Linked DNA regions of Homo sapiens. The protein of the gene in region 1 purifies or fractionates together with the protein of each later gene. This does not show direct contact. Each region holds a gene or a part of one and is shown in the gene's direction. Other genes may lie near its edges.

Evidence for each region.
Region 2: the proteins of ZC3H11A (region 1) and FIGNL1 purify together in Homo sapiens (affinity purification with mass spectrometry; one large-scale study listed by BioGRID and IntAct). This does not show direct contact.
Region 3: the proteins of ZC3H11A (region 1) and E2F3 purify together in Homo sapiens (pull-down; one large-scale study listed by IntAct). This does not show direct contact.
Region 4: the proteins of ZC3H11A (region 1) and NCBP3 purify together in Homo sapiens (co-immunoprecipitation; 3 studies listed by BioGRID and IntAct, with this or other methods). This does not show direct contact.

What each region holds. Positions count from the first base shown.
Region 1 is NC_000001.11:203,829,538-203,834,771, forward strand, and holds part of ZC3H11A (zinc finger CCCH domain-containing protein 11A), read left to right. Parts: coding exon 1-117; intron 118-242; coding exon 243-359; intron 360-585; coding exon 586-666; intron 667-2,123; coding exon 2,124-2,234; intron 2,235-4,253; coding exon 4,254-4,316; intron 4,317-5,234. UniProt on the Homo sapiens protein: Through its association with TREX complex components, may participate in the export and post-transcriptional coordination of selected mRNA transcripts, including those required to maintain the metabolic processes in embryonic cells.
Region 2 is NC_000007.14:50,442,397-50,447,848, reverse strand, and holds the end of FIGNL1 (fidgetin-like protein 1), read left to right. Parts: intron 1-551; 5' UTR 552-561; coding exon 562-2,586; 3' UTR 2,587-3,716; downstream 3,717-5,452. UniProt on the Homo sapiens protein: Involved in DNA double-strand break (DBS) repair via homologous recombination (HR). Recruited at DSB sites independently of BRCA2, RAD51 and RAD51 paralogs in a H2AX-dependent manner. May regulate osteoblast proliferation and differentiation.
Region 3 is NC_000006.12:20,407,881-20,413,114, forward strand, and holds part of E2F3 (transcription factor E2F3), read left to right. Parts: intron 1-5,234.
Region 4 is NC_000017.11:3,800,422-3,805,450, reverse strand, and holds the end of NCBP3 (nuclear cap-binding protein subunit 3), read left to right. Parts: 3' UTR 1-3,293; downstream 3,294-5,029. Other genes in the region: ITGAE (integrin alpha-E isoform 1 precursor), read left to right, coding at 4,307-4,340. UniProt on the Homo sapiens protein: Associates with NCBP1/CBP80 to form an alternative cap-binding complex (CBC) which plays a key role in mRNA export. NCBP3 serves as adapter protein linking the capped RNAs (m7GpppG-capped RNA) to NCBP1/CBP80.

The sequences.
Region 1 (5,234 bases):
CCAATCCTTCCCCTCAGCTGCGGAGCGTTATGAAAGTAGAAAGTTCCGAAAATGTTCCTAGCCCCACGCATCCACCAGTTGTAATTAATGCTGCAGATGATGATGAAGATGATGATGGTAAGTTCTGTCTGGCTCCTTCTTTAAGGCAAATAAATAGGGTCTCATAGTGAATTGGGCAGAATCAGGATTAAAGCTATAGGCGTATTTTTAATTGTGAATTTGCCTTAAATGTTGATATATAGATCAGTTTTCTGAGGAAGGTGATGAAACCAAAACACCTACCCTGCAACCAACTCCTGAAGTTCACAATGGATTACGAGTGACTTCTGTCCGGAAACCTGCAGTCAATATAAAGCAAGGTAAGAAGAGGCTAGATTGGTGCCTCTTATAGCACTGTTGAAACTACCTTTGAAATTTAGTTCACAATCATTGACCTCCCTCTTCTTTTTCCCATGCTACACGCATACTTACCTATACTTAGTTTCTGTTGATCATTTATTCAAAAATAAATGCCTGCTATGTACAGATAAAATACAAAGATGAAAAGGCTCCCGTTCCTCATAAAATTTCTATTTGAATTTTCAGGTGAATGTTTGAATTTTGGAATAAAAACTCTTGAGGAAATTAAGTCAAAGAAAATGAAGGAAAAATCTAAGAAGCAAGGTGGTAAGTCATCACGTTTTGGCATGGATAGTTGTATGTTGCTAGGGAAGAATACTAAGGACGCTTCTAGAAGCAACAGCCAAAATGAGCAAATAGATTTTCATTTCCATGGCCTGTTTGAAGTAAAACACAGACTTATTTAAATTGTGGTTGCTTTTAATTCACTGCAGCTGTGTTTCAGTCCCTAACTTTTCAGAGCTGGGTACAATAAAGAATCTGAAAGAACTTGTATATCTTGAAAAATATAGCTCTGAAGAACATCATATAAGAACTATATTAATTCTGTAAGTTCTTATAGTGGTTAAAAAGAAATTATATTAAGAGAGGAAAGGCTGGGCGTGGTGGCTCACGCCTGTAATCCCAGCACTTTGGGAGGCCGAGGAGGGCGAATCATGAGGTTGGGAGATCCAGACCATCCTGGCCAACATGGTGAAACCCCGTCTCTACTAAAACAAAAAATTAGCCAGGCGGGGTGGCATGCACCTGTAGTCCCAGCTACTCGGGAGGCTGAGGCATGAGAATTGCTTGAACCCAGGAGGCAGAGGTTGCAGTGAGCTGAGATCGCACCATTGTATTCCAGCCTGGCGACAGATCAAGACTCTGTCTCAAAAAAGAAAAAAAAGGAAAAACGTCATTTTCTAGTAGAAGAGTTCTTCCTCAAGAGCTGCTAGGATTTTCTTCTGGAGCTTACGTCAGCCTGATTGCTCTGTATTTCCAACCCCCAATTTTTTTTTTTTTTTTTTTTTTTTTTTTTTTTTTTTTTGAGACAGAGTTTTGCTTTTGTTGCCAGGCTGGAGTGCAATGGCGCAATCTTTGCTCACCACAACCTCCACCTCCCAGTTCAAGCTATTCTGCTGCCTCAGCCTCCTGAGTAGCTGGGATTACAGGCATGCGCCACCACGCCTGGGTAATTTTGTATTTTTGGTAAAGACAGGGTTTCTCCATGTTGGTTGGGCTGGTCTCGAACTCCCAACCTCAGGTAATCCACTGCGCCCAGCCCCCAGCCTTAAAATTTATAGTGTGAAGTGTAGTATATATAGAGAGAAATGGTTCTAAAAACCTTCTTTTAAGGCTTGCTTTATAGCAACCTTGGAGTTGTGTTTTCAGATGATTAAATAGAATAGGTTGGATTGATACACCTGATGGCTAGTGTACCTCTGAGGTTAATTTTAGAATAATACTAGCTTTATTGGTAAATATTAGCCTTATTGGTAAATAAAAGTAGTTTGGGTGCCTAAGTCACTCAAAATAATTTTATATTTTGTTTTCACATCATGCCCAAGGCTCCCCTCACCACTACTCCATTTGACTGTAGGCAAACAGATACAGAAAGGCTGATTGGCTTATAGTCATAATATCAGTCTGTATTGGACTTAACTGGTTACAAAAACAAATTTTTTGACTTGGGATAGCATTATTTTCCATAAATTATTTGCTGTTCTTTGACTTGCCTTATTCAGAGGGTTCTTCAGGAGTTTCCAGTCTTTTACTCCACCCTGAGCCCGTTCCAGGTCCTGAAAAAGAAAATGTCAGGACTGTGGTGAGGACAGTAACTCTCTCCACCAAACAAGGTAAGGTATAGATAGGTCTTAGAGTTGTCAAGCCTCTACTTTTATATAATTGGGAATGCAAAATCCTTGGGTATCTTTTACCTTTGATGAATTTTCAGGAATTTGTTAGTATGCTGATGAGATAATCTAAAGATGAAAAGTTGGTACATTCAACTCTAATATTTAAAAGGTTGAAATTCTTTGTCAAGCAGCCCTCACATATATTTTTCCATTTACTGTTTATATCCACTCAATACATTTATTGGCTTCCCATGTGACTAAAGAATAATAGGTATATATAATAAAGTTTTTTATTTATTTCTTTGAGACAGAGTTGCACTCCTGTTGCCTAGGCTGGAGTGCAATGGCATGATCTCAGCTCACCGCAGCCTCCGTCTTCTGGGTTCAAGCAATTTTCGTGTCTCGGCCTCCCAAGTAGTTGGGATTATAGGCATGTGCCACCAAGCCCGGCTGATTTTTTTGTATTTTTAGTAGAGACGGGGTTTCTCCATGTTGGTCTGGCTGGTCTCAAACTCCCGACCTCAGGTGATCCGCCCGCCTTGGCCTCCCGAAGTGCTGGGATTACAGGTGTGAGCCACCGTTCTTGGCCATTAATTTTTTTTTTTTTTAGATGGAGTCTTGCTCTGTCGCCCAGGCTAAAGTGCAATGGTGCGATCTCCACTCACTGCAACCTCCGCCTCCCAGGTTCAAGTGATTCTCCTGCTTCAGCCTCCCCAGTAGCTGGGATTATAGGCACCCGCCACCACGCCTGGCTAATTTTTGTATTTTTGGTAGAAACGGGGTTTCACCATGTTGGCCACACTGGTCTTGAACTGCTGGCCTCAAATCATCTGCCTGCCTCAGCCTCCCAAATTGCTGGGATTATAGGTGTTAGCCACCACACCCGGCCTGTAACGAAGTATTTTCACTTAATAATTTTAAGCCTAATAAGGAATTATAGATATAGATATATTTAAATGTTTGTGCAATTCAAACAACAAAGAATTAGAAGAAAGAGAGCTCACTTCTTCCTGAGGTGATCAGAGATAGTTATATTGGACAGTTAACATCGGAGTAGAGTACAGTTTCATTCAACATATCAAAGTGCATAAGCAAAAGGATAGTTTCAGCTTTATAACCAATTGGTTAAGAATACAATCTGTCTTATACTCGACTGCTATTAATAATTAGTACTATTCTAGGCTGTGCGCAGTGGCTTACATGTATAATCCCAGCACTTTGGGAGGCTGAGGCGGGCGGATCGCTTGAGGCCAGGAGTTCAAGACCAGCCTGGCCAACATGGTGAAACCCTGTCTCTACTAAAAATACAAAAATTAGGCTGGGTGTGGTGGCTCACGCCTGTAATCCCGGCACTTTGGGAGGCCGAGGCGGGCAGATCACAAGGTCAGAAATTCGAGACCAGCCCGACCAACGCGGTGAAACCTTGTCTCTACTAAAAATACAAAATTTAGCTGGGCATGGTGGTGCACGCCTGTAATCCCAGCTACTCAGGCTGAGGCAGGAGAATCGCTTGAACCCGGGAGGTGGAGGTTGCAGTGAGCCGAGATCGGGCCACTGCACTCTAGCCTGGGCGACAGAGTGAGACTCTGTCTCAAAAAAAAAAAAAAAAAAAACACCAGGTGTGGTAGTGTGCGCAGTAGTCCCAGCTACTTGGGAGGCTGAGACAGGAGAATTGCTTGAACCCAGGAGGTGGAAGTTGCAATGAGCCAAGATGGCACCACTGCACTCCAGCCTGAGTGACAGAGCAAGAGTCTATTATTATTATCAAAATAATAATAATAATTAGTACTATGCTATTGCTTCTGTTTAGGCTGTATGTTTGGCTGTTTATTATTAATAGGTTTGGGTTTTTTTTTTTTTTTTTTGATATAATGGCCTTCCTTAAGACTGAGACCTGATTTTCAAGAGACTTTCTGGGTGGATTTACACTAATATCAGAACATACTTTGTACCCATTAGTAGTTACTGAATACAGAAAAATTGACTAAGGATAGAGAAATTCTGCTTTTGCCATTTCAGGAGAAGAACCCTTGGTTAGATTGAGTCTTACTGAGAGACTGGGGAAACGAAAATTTTCAGCAGGTAAGATAAGTTTTGTGTATATCTTTTCTTTTCTACTTGTTTGTGCATTAACATGATAGCTTCTCCAAACTCTTTTTATACAGATCTTTGTTATTGGTGCCCCTGTATTGGCTGAAAGCACTTATAAATTCCTCATGTTTTCATGAGTGCATTATACCTTTTATTGAAGATACAGAGATTTAAAGTGTTACAATTGAACTAGATTATGACCATGACCAGCGTTTTGGAAGGAACTAGATTTTAAAAATGGTAAAGAACACCTCTATTTCTCTGAACAAATTTAAATGTGAGTTTTTAGAGGCGAGAAAAATGATTGGTTAATATAATGTGTGTCTCTTAGAATACAGGAATCCCTAAGAAGAAAGAAGAAAGTATGTATATATAAAATTTGAGTCCTTGAGTCTATTGGTGCTTGCTTATTTATTTATTTATTTAGAGACAAGAGTCTTGTTTTGTTACCCAGGCTGGAGTGCAGTGGTGCAATCTCAGCTCACTGCAACCTCCACCTCCTGGACTCAAGTGATCCTCCTGCCCCAGCCTCTCAAGTAACTGGGACCATAGGCCTACACCACCATACCTGGCTAATTTTTGTATTTTTTATAGTGATAGGGTTTCACCATGTTGCCCAGGCTGGTCTCCAACTCCTGGGCTCAAGTGATCTGTCGGCCTTGGCCTCCCAAAGTACTGCAATTACAGGCATGAGATACCATGCTTGGCTGCTATTTTATTTTTGGGGGAGTACTTTACCATATTAGTAAATTGTTGTATAACTACCCTAACGTGTCTGACTCCAAAAAATTATTATTATCATTTGAAACGAGAGTCTTGCTCTGTCGCCCACGCTGGCGTGCACTGGCACAATCTCAGCTCACTGCAACCTCCACCTCCTGGGTTCAAGTGATTCTCCTGCCTCAGCCT
Region 2 (5,452 bases), on another chromosome or scaffold:
AGGAGAAGCACTTGAACCCGCGAGGTGGAGGTTGCAGTGAGCTGAGAGCGCCACTGCCCTCCAGCAGCCTGGGTGACAGAGCGAGACACTGTCTCAAAAAAAAATAATAATAAAATAAAAATAAACCATCAGTGATAGTAAAAAGCTCACTTAAGCTCATTCACCTAGTTTTATAGATCAGACTTAAACCTCTTGTTTATTTTGTTTTGCTTTATGTATCTATAGTTCCATTGTTTTTAAAATTTAAAATTAATTTTAAACCTTATGAATGCTTTCCCTACAGATAAAATTATGTAACTAGAACAATTTAACTCATATAAATTATTATTTAATCAAGTCCTTAATTTTGAAGACTTCATATTGATATGTCTTGAATACTTGAAATCTATAGTTAACTAGATATTTCTCTTATAACCTGTCCTTATAAATCTACATTATAAATAAAAAGTCCAGTGTCCCTTCCTTCAGATTAGCAGAAGTTTCAAAATTACATTTAAAGTATTTTCTTTGTTTTCCTTCATACTGATTTTCATTTTTATTGTTTGTTATAGAACCTCTAAAATGCAGACCTCCAGCTCTAGATCTGTGCACCTGAGTGAATGGCAGAAGAATTACTTCGCAATTACATCTGGCATATGTACCGGACCGAAGGCAGATGCATACCGTGCACAGATATTACGCATTCAGTATGCATGGGCAAACTCTGAGATTTCCCAGGTCTGTGCTACCAAACTGTTCAAAAAATATGCAGAGAAATATTCTGCAATTATTGATTCTGACAATGTTGAATCTGGGTTGAATAATTATGCAGAAAACATTTTAACTTTGGCAGGATCTCAACAAACAGATAGTGACAAGTGGCAGTCTGGATTGTCAATAAATAATGTTTTCAAAATGAGTAGTGTACAGAAGATGATGCAAGCTGGCAAAAAATTCAAAGACTCTCTGTTGGAACCTGCTCTTGCATCAGTGGTAATCCATAAGGAGGCCACTGTCTTTGATCTTCCTAAATTTAGTGTTTGTGGTAGTTCTCAAGAGAGTGACTCATTACCTAACTCAGCTCATGATCGAGACCGGACCCAAGACTTCCCGGAGAGCAATCGTTTGAAACTCCTTCAGAATGCCCAGCCACCTATGGTGACTAACACTGCTAGGACTTGTCCTACATTCTCAGCACCTGTAGGTGAGTCAGCTACTGCAAAATTCCATGTCACACCATTGTTTGGAAATGTCAAAAAGGAAAATCACAGCTCTGCAAAAGAAAACATAGGACTTAATGTGTTCTTATCTAACCAGTCTTGTTTTCCTGCTGCCTGTGAAAATCCACAGAGGAAGTCTTTTTATGGTTCTGGCACCATTGATGCACTTTCCAATCCAATACTGAATAAGGCTTGTAGTAAAACAGAAGATAATGGCCCAAAGGAGGATAGCAGCCTGCCTACATTTAAAACTGCAAAAGAACAATTATGGGTAGATCAGCAAAAAAAGTACCACCAACCTCAGCGTGCATCAGGGTCTTCATATGGTGGTGTAAAAAAGTCTCTAGGAGCTAGTAGATCCCGAGGGATACTTGGAAAGTTTGTTCCTCCTATACCCAAGCAAGATGGGGGAGAGCAGAATGGAGGAATGCAATGTAAGCCTTATGGGGCAGGACCTACAGAACCAGCACATCCAGTTGATGAGCGTCTGAAGAACTTGGAGCCAAAGATGATTGAACTTATTATGAATGAGATTATGGATCATGGACCTCCAGTAAATTGGGAAGATATTGCAGGAGTAGAATTTGCTAAAGCCACCATAAAGGAAATAGTTGTGTGGCCCATGTTGAGGCCAGACATCTTTACTGGTTTAAGGGGACCCCCTAAAGGAATTTTGCTCTTTGGTCCTCCTGGGACTGGTAAAACTCTAATTGGCAAGTGCATTGCTAGTCAGTCTGGGGCAACATTCTTTAGCATCTCTGCTTCATCCTTAACTTCTAAATGGGTAGGTGAGGGGGAGAAAATGGTCCGTGCATTGTTTGCTGTTGCAAGGTGTCAGCAACCAGCTGTGATATTTATTGACGAAATTGATTCCTTGTTATCTCAACGGGGAGATGGTGAGCATGAATCTTCTAGAAGGATAAAAACAGAATTTTTAGTTCAATTAGATGGAGCAACAACATCTTCTGAAGATCGTATCCTAGTGGTGGGAGCAACAAATCGGCCACAAGAAATTGATGAGGCTGCCCGGAGAAGATTGGTGAAAAGGCTTTATATTCCCCTCCCAGAAGCTTCAGCCAGGAAACAGATAGTAATTAATCTAATGTCCAAAGAGCAGTGTTGCCTCAGTGAAGAAGAAATTGAACAGATTGTACAGCAGTCTGATGCGTTTTCAGGAGCAGACATGACACAGCTTTGCAGGGAGGCTTCTCTTGGTCCTATTCGCAGTTTACAAACTGCTGACATTGCTACCATAACACCGGATCAAGTTCGACCCATAGCTTACATTGATTTTGAAAATGCTTTTAGAACTGTGCGACCTAGTGTTTCTCCAAAAGATTTAGAGCTTTATGAAAACTGGAACAAAACTTTTGGTTGTGGAAAGTAAGTGGGATACTTGGAATCAAGGCATCTCTGTAGTACAGTCTTCTTTATTTTTTAGCATAGAAAGTTGGGGATGTGTTAATTGTATTTTTAAGAATATATTCTAAGTTCTGTACTTCAAATAATAGCACAGATTTTACATCTGATTGACATAGTGTATGTTAATGTAAGTTTTGCTTTCCAGTGATTACCTGATACGTAAGCCTATTTGAACAAAGTGAGAATGAACTTTTGTTTCTAAGAAGTCTTTATCTTGAAGCTATATAACATGAAAAGTGAGCTCAAATTTTTTTTAGTTGAAGATTACATATAAAGTTGTGTCTGATTAATATTCATCTTTTATTGAAGAAAGTGCCTTCTGATGGCCACATAATTCTTAATGTCAGCTAGTATAATGGTTTACATTTGGACAAAGTATTGCTTAGTGTTATTTAAGTAGATTTAAGATCTCAAAGCTAAAGTGCCAATTTTTACTTTCTTCAGCCAATTTGTTACCTCTTTTATGGTTTTTAATTTTTATCAGGACTAACATTTTCAGAAATAGCAAGGTGTGATCTAGTATTAGATTCACAGAACTGAAAGGTTAATTAAGAATGTTGGTTATTTTCACGGGAGCGTGTGATATTTAACATTAATATTTTATTTGACACTACAGCCTGTAATACTGCTCTCTTTCAAAAACAAGTTTTCAGATTTTTATAACAGACCCATTTTGTTTTATGAAACATGTTCATTACAGAAACATGAGAAAATAGAGATAAGTAAAAAGAATAAAAGTCACTATTATCCTACCACTTTGCGGGACACACTATTAATATTTAAGCATAGATTCTTCCAGATGTTTTGTTTTATACAGCAGTAGGATTGTGTAATGTATTCTCTCTTGTAGCCTATTCTTCAAAGCGTATCTTCACTTTCCATGTTAACATAAATGTCCTTTTATGATTGTCTAGGATTCCATGGATGGATGGAATATAATTGAGTCATCTGGTAGAGCGCATATAGGACAGGACGCTAGGTTGTTTATCTTTTGTTTATTGTAAAGGAACTATGTGGGATGCATTTGGTGATCTTTTTAAAAAATGTATAAATTTCTTGAGTAATTCCTGGATTAAAGAATATGCACTTTTTAAAGCTTTTGGCTTGCATTCTAAATTGTCCTCTTGAAAAAGTAGTTCCTGTGTAAAACTCCATCTGCACTGAATCAGAGCTATGGCAGCATTGGGCAGTAGGCAGTTTTGGTATTTGTTGGCATTCTTTTTGCATTTATTCAAAAAACTGAAGGTAGTGAACGTAGAGCAATGAACAACACAAATATCCTTGGTCTCGTGGAGGTTATATTTAAGTTCTAATGTTTTCTCTTGTGAACAGTGCAATTTGAAATGACAAATTGAAACACTTTTAGTTGTTGAATTTAGACAGTTTGTGTATATAGTTTAAATTTTTATTCTTGGTTTGCCTTCTGTTTTTATGTTAAAAGATTGTTGCAATTTTTAGTTTTTCCCTTTGTAATATGTGATTGTCTTTCATTAGAATTCATTTTTTGTTTTGTTTTGGTTATTTTGAAACAGTCTCGCTGTGTTGCCTAGGCTGGAGTGCAGTGGTGTGATCTCAGCTCACTGCAACCTCTGCCTCCTGGGTTCCAGTGATTCTTGTGCCTCAGTCTCCCTTGTAGCTGAGACCACAGGTTTGCACCACCACACCCAGCTAATTTTTGTATTTTTAATCGAGATGGGGTTTCACCATGTTGCCCAGGCTGCTCTCGAACTCCTGGCCTCAAACGATCCACCCACCTCAGCCTCCTGAAGTGTTGGGATTACAGGCATGAGCCACCACGCCTGGCCTTTTTTATTAGAATTTGGACGTTAAACTTCTTGTCTTCAGTTCTTAGTTATATCTTTTAACATCCTAAAACATTCCACAATATTCATTACTGTCTTTATCCCTTTCTATTTCTATATAAACAGCACTATAAACTTGGTTTCTTTGGTATTGATGTCAAGGAATTCTCTAGTTTTTCTTTCTTGGTGTTTAATTGCAGATCACTCCCACCTTCTTGGGTCTAGCTATTTAGATTTATCAGCATTTGCCCTCTAGCTGTTAATGTTTTATTTAGCTCTGAAATTTGGTCTTAATATTTATTATCAGTTTTTTTCAGTTACAGCTTCTGCCAGCCCTGACTTTAAGCTCCCTTGATCACCAGCCACAGGGCCACTTCTTTCTATGGAGTTTAGAAATTGTGACAAGGAGAGAAAGTCTAGTTGGTTTAGCTCATCTTGGATTAAGCAGAGCCCATGTCTCTCTTGTTAGCTCAAGAAATGGTCTTTCCTGAATTAAGGTCTACTCTGTTAAATAAGAATCTAAACCTGAAAGGAATAGTCAGGATATTTTAAAGCTGGAAAGAAAATTTGAGCTGGGGAGTCAACTGTTGTTTCTACGTTATACCACAGAGAAGCTTTCTTTGTCTCAACACTTTGTGATTTTGAGTGTTTCTGAAGCAGTTGGATAGGAAGCTTACTGAAACTTTAAGATTGCTTACTCTCGCCACATGCGATTGTCTTCATCGAATATAATAATCTTGGATTAAATTATCTCAAGTGTGGCACTGCCCTGTCTTTAGCTATTGTTTCAGAAACATGAATGCTAGCCTGATATTTAATGTCTTCAAAAATTACATTCCCTTAGTAGAAATACACATTTTACTAAACATGTCACTTGGTTATGGTATTAATGCTTAACAATTTTGATATGAATATGGTAATTCTAATTTATGATTTCAGGCCTTCTTAAATCTTTATTATACATCTAATAATAATATATGATCCTTTTGATATGTATTCATTCTGTGGTAAATTTCTAATTTTCTGAAA
Region 3 (5,234 bases), on another chromosome or scaffold:
CTCACCAGATCCCTGATAAATTCCCATGAAGCCACCTGAAAGGTGGTAAAAGCAAGGTAAAACGTGGTGAAAGCAAGGTAAAGAAGGTAGATTTCACAATTTTGTTTTTTAAAAAGGGGAATCTTCCCTGAATTCTTTGAGGTACTAAGTACGTGGTTTAATGCATATTTTCATTCTTGTTAGCAGTTTAAAAATAATGTTTCAGAGACTGTATTCACGATTGCTAAAAAGCATTTTTTCTACTAATCATTGTTCATGGGACTTAACAATGGAAGATAACTGGGAAAGCAGTAAATATAGGAAACCACTAATAGTGTCTCCTTCTTCCTACCCTGACCCTCTCTTTGGCTTCAGAAAGTGACGAGGAAAATGTATCTTTCACAAAGAAAAGTTATACCACAGAAGGTACTAAAAAGCAACAACTGCCTTTGGGGACAGGAAACTTACAGAGTGGGGATTATTATAGAGGGATAACATACCGAGTTTCTATTTCAATAAGAGGGAAATTGGTTTATATTCTGTTCACACTTGTTTCAAACCCTCTCCTCTAAAAGCAATGTGTTTTTGGAATTCAAGGAATGTACGTTCTTTCCCCAACCTTAACTGGGGGTCAGTCTTATGGCCACCATATTTGTCTACAATATAACTTTTAAAAAATATAATTTTTGCCCTCAAATACTCTCCTATCCAATGCAATGTAACTTTGAAGGAGAAGTGATGAAGGCCACTGGTTGCCAGATTGTATCACACAGCCAGATGCACTTTGCTTTGATGAAGAATCTAAGTGATGCAGGCCCCCACTTAGCTTTGTAAACTAAGGCAGGGGTTTATGTCAGCTCGAGGTAGAAAGCAGTGAGAATTGGCAGCTGATGGAATAGAAAGGGGACAAAAAGAATAAAAAATAATTGACTTTAGTCTGCTTTCCATTACCGTAGCCCAACTCTCTGGGGCCATTTGTGTGGTCTAGACAACATTCTTAGAACTTGACAGTCCCTGAGAACGATATTCTAGGTTGGCATGGGCAATAGTTGGCATTTACACTGGTCTTGGAATCATAACATTTGAGAAGTGTAAGGCACAAGAGTCCTCATCTGCCCAATCCCCTTCATGTTGCAGGTGAGGAAATTCAGGCCCAGTGCTGTTAAATTACTTGCCCAAGGTCACAGGTCTTTGCTAGTGGCAAAGCCAAAACCGAAACGGGAGACTCTTGAATTCTTAGAAGCCTCATTCACCAAGAGAAGGTTAACTGTGTCTCATGAACCCTATATGGGAAAATTGGGGTGTGTAGGACACATTTTAGATTTCCTTCAGGAGTGGTTACCTTTTTTAAAAATGCGCACATAAAGAAGTGTCCTTTAAACAGTTGGCTGTGGGGGTAATGACTTATTCCCAAAGATACAAAATAAGCAAGGCTACTTTGGATGTTAAATGAAAGGGAATTATTTAAAAAAGGAAAGAATGACTCTTCAAAACGTGATAGTAATATTTTTAAAGATTTATTTGATATTCGCAAATTTGTCTTCTGTGGTTATATCAATTCTGTTGCTCAAAAAGTGACACATGCTTCATAGAGAATAGAATCTAAAAGGATTTTTGAGACTTTCTTGGGGAGAAGGACACACAGTGCCCCTCTGGTAGTAACGGAGTTTTGTCCTGGGCCACCAACATCCTGAGTGACTGTCATGCTTTCAGAGGTCCCCAGCCCTTGCCCAGTAACATTGAACAAGGTGTTCTTCCTCTGTGGTTAGCTCCAAGATTTCTGGTTTAGCAAAGTGGCTAATCAGTTAACTCTTTAAGAGGAAATTGTCATTCCTTTAGCCAACGCTAATTTCCTTAAAATGCCTTCTTTTCCTTTTTGGAACTGAGAAAGCTTAAAAATAGAATTGCTTCAAGCCCTGAGGCCTGAAAGTGAAACATAATCTAACGTGGCTGTAGTGCACTGACTCGTTAGGGGCAGCGATATATGGCTTATCTGTAATCCACAAACCAGAAAGGTGCCCAGTGTAGATACGGTCTAACAGCCAGTGAGCATTAAGTACCAACTGATGAGAGTAGTAATCAGTGAAGCTGATTTCCTCTGGAAAGTTTTTTGGCGAGTAGAGTTTGTCTTAGAGAGTGGAGGATTTGAATGCCTCTTGACTTTCTGCTGAGGAGAGCTTCTGCCTGCTCTAGTTTTTATGATCCTGAAGGGTGGTAGCTCTGGACTCTGAGAATGATGGGCAGTGAACTCAGGGTCTGTATATTTCGTTCCACTCTGCTCTTCCCCATTTCTGATGCTTTGGGGGCTCCATTTCTGATACATAACCAGAGCAGCATCCCTGAGGCCCACACTATCTCCTGTGTGCCTTTCTGCATCTGGCAGTCCCTTGGAGAGAAGGAGGCTCATGTGTTTATAACCTGCACCCTGTCCTAAAAGGCATAGTGAGGGGCAGCTGAGTATAAGGTCAGGCCACTTAGCCTGGAGCCAGAGTGCCTGTGTTCTTGTTCTGGCTCTGCTCACTAGCCCTGTGACTTTGGGCAAGAAACTTGGCCTCTATGTTTTCATTTCCTCATCTGTAAATTGGGAGGAATGATAGTACCTACCTTATGGGGTTAGGAAGTTGCAATGAGTTCTTATTTGTAAAGTGCTTAGACCAGTGTCTGGCACGTAGGAAGGATTATGTGTTAAGTAGAAACATGGTATAATTGCCCTTCCTTCCACAGGCATCTCATGGGCTGTCCTTTTGTGATCCATTTTCTTGGTTTGTTTTTGTTTTGAGACCAAGTCTTGTTCCGTTGCCCAGGCTGAAATGCAATGGTGCAATCTTGGCTCACCGCAACCTCTGCCTCCTGGGTTCAGCCGATTCTCCTGCCTCAGCCTCCCCCGTAACTGGGATTACAGGTGTGCGCCACCACGCCCAGCTAATTTTATTTGTATTTTTAGTAGGGACGGGGTTTCACCATGTTGGTCAGGCTGGTCTCGAACTCCTGACCTCAGGTGATCTGCCCGCCTCGGCCTCACAACGTGCTGGGATTGTAGGCATGAGCCACTGTTCCTGGCCTGATCTATTTTCTTAACTAGCCCTTAGTGTTCATTTCACCCCATTGCACCTCTCTAAAAATGGTGATGATGGGAAGGAGAAGTAAACCGTGGAATGGCTCTCGCCTAATGCAGTCTTTAGGGTCTAGGGTCTTTGTATTTCTTTATAAGCTGCCCATTGACTTGGGAAAAAGAACTGAAGAATAAGCTTCTTGTAGTAGTGCTATCAGTAGTGATAGTGTCATGAATAAAACCTTTATTTCTGTGATTAAATGTATTAATAAAGTGACACTACTAGCATGAATGACACTATTAACATAATTTCAATCCTGTACAGTAAACCATGGCTTAAGACTGAATGGCAAGAATCAGGGTGTCTGAGCTGCTGGGCCCTGCCAGACTCGGAGCCCCTGCCAGTGTGTGTATATCAAGGCAGGGCGGGGGGTTGTCTTGCTCTCCAGAGGCAATGGAACCTGCCTCTAGGCCTCCCTTTTCCCTTCTCATCTCCTCACCCCTCCTTTTTTATGTTAGATCTATTCCTACCCCTTCCCCTTCGCCTTGCCCTCTGCCTGGCTCTTAGAAGGAAGCAGACTTGCCACCTTCAGTGGCTGCTTCCCGGACTTACCAAATTAATTACCACCTTTTCCTGCCATCAAGGGATGGTGAAATCTTGCCTTTTCGGTCTTGCTTCCCATTCCTCTGCACTCGGCTGCTGCGACAGTGTGGTGCTGCAGGCACCGCAGATTTCCCTCTGGTGTGTTTGCTCGTAGCTTCTCCCTCTCCACCTTACTCCTTTTGTTGCCCTCCTCCCACTGGCCCATTGAGGCCCACATCAAGGGAAGGCGTAGGCACAGCCTCCCCCAGTTTCCCAGGGGCTTGGGCCTCTCCCTTCCCTTGGGTTACTGCTTCTTTCCTGTAACACCTCATGGTCTGCCTCGTAGCCTAATCTTGCATGTTCATGACTTACTCCTCCTCCAAACCTGTAAGCTCCAAGAAATCGGTCTGGCTTGCTTTTTCATCATGTGGTCCCTGCAGTGCCCACTACACTATAGGCTCAGCTACCTGAGAAGAGGCATTTTCATTAGACACCTTCCATGTGCTTGGTACCCCATTAGTCCTATTGGGGATACAAAAGAAGTATGAGGTGTGATCCGCCCACTCTTGAGTTTACAGTCTGTTGAGGAGACAAGCTTTAAACACAAGTTGATCTGCAAGCAAGACTAAACAGGCGGTAGGGAGAAAACAAGACTCATCTAGTCCTCAGTTGTGTGGTGTCGACAGAAAGTGCCAGAGGAACAGGTGAGAGTCACCAGACTCCAGCTGGGCCGTGAGATGGGGAGGCCACGGTTGTCAATCTTGGAGTACATTAGGGCACACATGTGAATCTCCCAGGGCGCTTTTTAAAAATACTGATACCTAGGCCCCACCCAGACCAATCAGAATGTCTAGAGGTGAGATTAAGACATGGATTTTTTTTCTTTTTTTAATGTGCTCAGTTGGAACCACTGGGCTTGGTGGAAAGGGAAGATTGGGGAGGCCCTTTCTGGCGGGGAGACATAAGTCAAAGGCAGGCAGGCAGAAAGATTGGCGTCAGGAGGCAGCATTTGGACTAGAGTCATCAGTATGGGGAGATAACAGGACCGAAGGTTGGATGTGTTGGCAAAACTGATCTAGAATTGGAGTTGCCTTTCTACAAGGGCTGGGCGGGGAGTAGATTGGGGGTGGGAAGTTTGAGTGGTGTGGGGATTGTTCACGAATAAAGAAGAAACGTACTATCAAAAGGGGGCCTTGGGACCTGGTCACAGGCAGTGGGTGCCAGAGGGGATGGCAGGCCTTGTGTTTTGCCAGGTCTTCAACCTTCTCAAAATGCCAGAAATCTACCAGTTTTAAAATGTTGGCTGAATTTAAAAGGAAATTGCGCAGGCCAAACAAAATAGGTCTCTAGGCCAGATTTGGCTTAAGGGCTGCCACTCAGCAGTCTCTGGTCTATGGGATAATAATAGCTAATGTTTATCGAGTGCCCGCATGTATCGAGGGCACTAAACTAAGTGCTTTACTCGCATTAGCACATTATCCACATAACAACCTATGAAGTGGGTATTATTATCATCCTTGTTCTACACAGGGAAGCAGACAGCCAGGGGTTAATGGCCTGGCTCTGGGCCCCATTAATAAGTGGGGCAACTGAAATTAAACCCAAGGAGCCTGGCTCCAT
Region 4 (5,029 bases), on another chromosome or scaffold:
GACCTCATCTAACCTTAATTACTTCCTAAAAGCCATATGTCCAAGAAGAGCCACATTGGGGGTTAGGGCTTCAACATATGAATTTGGAGGACATTTACAGTTCAGTCCACAGCACCTGGTCATGTGGAGATCCCAGTCTGCATTTGTGGGATGAAATCTCTGCTTTTTTAAAGTTTACACACCACCTAGCTGGGCACGTGGCTCACACCTGTAGTCTCAGCACTTTGGGAGGCCGAGGCGGGGATCACCTGATGTCAGGAGTTCGAGACCAGCCTGGCCAACATGGTGAAACCCCGTCTCTACTAAAAATACAAAAATTAGCCGGGTGTGGTGGCGGGCACCTGTAGTCCCAGCTACTCGGGAGGCTGAGGCAGGAGAATCGCTTGAACCCAGGAGGCAGAGGTTGCAGTAAGCTGAGATTGTGCCACTGCACTCCAGTCTGGATGAAAGAGCAAGACTCCATCTCAAAAACAAAAATAAAAAAAGTCTACACACCAAAAGAGCTGAAGGCAGGAGAGTTTGTGGTGGTTCAGAGTCCTGATTCTGGAGGAAACAGGCCTGTTTGGAGTCCCAGCTCTGCTCCTTACTAGCTATGTGGCCTCTCAGAGGCAGCATCCTTATCTGAGAAATCGGGTTGACCTTGTAGGTGGCTGAGAGGCTCAGATGAGGGCTCGCATGTGAGGCCTTGGCACTGAGCAGGGCACTCCTACCGAGTGTTCAAAGGTCGTGAGTACCACTGCTCTGCAGCCCTGGGCTCTGGTCTCAGCAATGCCGTCACTCTTTCTGGCTTCCTAAGAGTCAGAAGGCAAGTGGGAGAATAGAACCATTTCCTGTGTCTGAAGGCTGTGCCTCAGTGCTTTTGACTCACTCTGAAGACAGCAGGCAGCCCTTTCTGTTTTTTTTGGAGATGAAGTCTTGCTCTTGTCGCCCAGGCTGGAGTGCAATGGCGCAGTCTCGGCTCACTGCACCCTCCGCCTCCCAGGTTCAAGCAATTCTCCCACCATAGCCTCCCGAAGCTGGGGCTACAGGCACACGCTGCCACGCCTGGCTAATTTTTTGTGTTTTTAGTAAAGACAGGGTTTCACCATGTTGCCCAGGCTGGTCTCAAACTCCTGAACTCAGGCGATCCGCCTACCTCGGCTTCCCAAAGTGCTGGGATTACAGGTGTCAGCTACCACGCCCGACCCACAGGCAGCCCTTTCACCTCACGCCGAGCACGTCTCCTCCATCCATGAACATTTTGCAACTTTTTTTTAAAGAGACAGGTTCATACTATGTTGTCTAGATTGGACTCAAACTCCTGGGCTCAAGCTTTCCCAAGTAGCTTGAACCTCTTAAGTAACTGTGACTACAAGTGCACCTGGCCACTTTTTCTGAGACGGAGTCTCGCTCTGTCACCCAAGTGGAGTGCAGTGGCATGATCTCCGCCCACTGCGAGCTCCGCCTCCTGGGTTCACGCCATTCTCCTGCCTCACCCTCCTGAGTAGCTGGGACTACAGGCACCCGCCACCACGCCTGGCTAATTTTTTTTGTATTTTTAGTAGAGACCGGGTTTCACCGTGTTAGCCAGGATGGTCTCGATCTCCTGACTTTGTGATCCGCCCGCCTCGGCCTCCCAAAGTGCTGGGATTACAGGCGTGAGCCACCGCGCCTGGCCCACCTGCCCATTTTTTAAAAACTTTATTCTTCCTGGTATCAAGGGGAGAAAGAAAAAAATTTTTTAAAATATTTAAAACTTTATTTTGAAATAATTTCAAAATCACAGCAGTTTGAAGGGTACAACAAAGAACATTTTGCCACATTTTCTCTTTCATTCGTTCCCTCCTCTTCTCCCTCACCCCTGTTTCTTCCTATCCTCTCTGAACCATGAACCATTTGAGGATTATTTGTATACATCATGCTCGTTTATCCGTAAGATGTTTTAGTGAACATTTCCCAAGAACAGGGACAGCCTCTCACATGCCCATGGTACAGTTCTCAAATTCAGGAAATGTGTAATATTCTCTGATCAGCCCAGGAGTTGCTAATTTGTAGTTCCTGTTTCAAATTTGCCAACTGTCCCAATAATGATTTTGAAAGCCGTTGTTTTTCTGGTCCAGGATCCAATCCAGGATCAAGCGCTGCCTTTAGTTGTCCTCTCTGCAGCCTCCTTTCGTTTGGAGCAGGTCCTCAGCCTTTCTGTCTTTCATGACATTGATGTTTGTGAAGAGTACAGTCCAGTTTCTGTTGTAGAACGTCCTTGAAGTTGGTCCCGGAATATTTGTTTAAAGTGAGTTGGGAAACCACATTCACATGTCTTTTGGTTATGTGTGTATTTGTCAAACAGCCAGCCTTGTGCTGCGTGCTGTGATGGGGAGCATTACTCAACAGAGCCTGGCCCTGACCTTGGGGATGTAGTTTGGGTTTGTGGGGAAAGCAGCTACCGCCAGGTGGGCTTTACGGACCCCTGTGTGTCTCATGACTAGAGGCACTGACGCTTGGATAAATACATACTGGATGGATGCAGGATGAGTCCGCATTCTAGAAGTGTGCAGAGGTACAGAAGTGGCCCTGCTCCCTGTCCAGCACCCAGTCATCAGCTTTCCCTGGCTTCCCGAGGCACCCTGACGTTCACACTCCAAACACAAAGTCTTCTCTCAGGAATCTCGAGTGAGCTGCAGTCTGGGTTCTAGCCCTGCCCTAGCAGGGATCTGCTCAGTGACTGGGCTGCTCTCTTCCTGCTTTAGGCCAATGCGGGGGAGAGGAGACCACTGTGACTCTCCCCAGTGCCCTTGGAGCGCAGAATGAAGTGAGGGGAGGAGGAGGGTCACGAGCCCTGGAGCGCTGGGAAGACAGGCTGTAGGCCGCAGGCCCCGATCCTGCCTGGGACGAGGTTCAACAGAAGTAGGATGGTTTCATCATGACCTGGCAGGAAAACCACCAGACCTGGAATTTTGCTTTTACAACTGTTTAACTTCTGTTTCATACAGGATGGAAACCGGTGAATTGTAATCTCACATAACCGAGCAAGATCTAGTAGTCATAAGCACTTTGTCAGAGCAAAGCAGACAAGGCAAAGTGTTGGAAATGTCATCGGATCTTCACAGAACCTTAGCCAAGCAGCCTTTCAATGCGAGAAACAAAATAACATGGATTTTTATCTAGTAATGAAGTCAACACCATTGTCCACCCTGGGTTAACACATTCACATCTCAAAGCGAATGGGGCTGCAGACACTCGTGTTAGAGAGCCTTGGAATGTCCTGCCTTTTTACGTTTAATTAAAATTAAATAAAATATACAAAATTCAGTTCATCAGTTGTTCTAGTGGCATTTTAAGGGTTTAGTACCATATGTGGCTCATGAGTACCATCCTGGACAGCGTCGACCTAGAGCAGTTCCATCCCCGCGCAGAGTTCTGTTTGACGGCGCCACTCTGCACTTCCAGCAGCCTGGGGAGCAGGGGTGCAGGAGAGTTCCTTCTGTGTCACAGACTTGGTCACACAGTACAGATCTCAGATCAGCACTTAAACACGACTGCCAGCTGTCAACGGCGTGTTCTGTGGAATGCTGGGATGCATCACAGGTATGCTGGAAGATGTATAGAATTTTACTTCTGTTATTCTGGTAACTCAGAGTCCTGTTCAGTCAGTTTCCACGTCAGGTTGCTGTCCTGGTTTTAAAGAGAATGAACGCAGCCGAAGTTGAATCGAGGCAGTGATTTCACTCAGTGCGTTGGGTCTTTCCACTCACCTGGCCCTCCAGAACCCCAGGGCCTTGAGTGCATGGGCTGGTACAAGAGCCCAGTTTTTGGCTGGGGAGGCACTTCCTATGGGAGGGGGACGCCTGTCTCAGTGCTGAGGCAACCACCACCGAGGACCCTGGGCTGGAAGCTGGGCTGAGATGTCTGGTGGTAGGTTCTGAGGCAGGACAGGGGACCGACTCAAATGGATGATACGAACGGCAGGCTGGATTCACGTTGCTCCTGCACCTCCAGCATCTGCTGAGGACACCTAGAACTGTGGCCCTGGCCAAACCTCAGCTCCCTATTCCATGAAAGTGTGGGTCAAAGTGTGGGTGGTAGAGTGGGGCTGACAGTGGCCCCTAAGCTCCTAGGGTCCAGCCCACAACTGAGGAAGCCACACGGCTGGTTGTGTACGAGCCGGAGTGTCTCTGTTTGGTTGAAAGTGCCGGTCTGTGGGTCCTTGCTGGTGTGTGTGCTTCTGTCCCCGCCTCCTGGCCTCCTGGCTGAGGGGAAGCTGAGTGGGCCACGGCCCATGTGTCGCACTCGCCTCGGCTCCCACACAGCCGCCTCTGCTCCAGCAAGGATGTGGCTCTTCCACACTCTGCTCTGCATAGCCAGTAAGTCCTCTCACCCGCTGCTTCGAGGGGCTGCTGTGCCCTCAGCTCCAGCCAGGTGTCTGCAGACTACAGCCTTGACTGTCTGTCTCTGATGGGGCTCAGTTAGAGCCAGAGGTTAGAGAGTGGCAGCTCCTCCAGGAAAGGAGTCTTGCTCGGTGGGTCAGGGCCCCAGGCTTGTTGGGAAGGGCGGCTGAGGCTTCGTGTTGCCAGTTCTGTCAGCCAGGGCCTTTGGACTCCAGGGCTCTGCCATTCTGTTCCTCCTCCAGCCAGCCTCCCCCCGCCACCGAGGCCCTCTCCCCATGGCACCCACTTGGGGCAGGTCCTTGACTCTGTAGTTTGTTCTCTGAGTGTGGAGGCTCCGCCTGGCAGAGCTCCCTTCTGTTACAGAGCAGGGGTTGGGCTGATGAGGGTGAGGACCCTGTGAGAGAGTGTTGACCAGAGACTGGGGGCAAGTGTCTGTATGGTAGAGGGTGTGAGTGTTGGCAGGGAGCCTGCTTCCTGTGTTGTCAGGCCCAGGGTAAAAACTGGAATGTGGGGTGGGGGGAGGCACTTCTGCTGCCTGGGGGGTCCCATTTTAGCCTTTAACTGTCCCATGGAAGCCTCTGGGCAAGCCAAGCCATGAGTCCTTTCGGGGGCCCCCTGTGATGAGACAGCACGGTCAGGTGAGCCCCTGGAGGCTGCTAAGATTA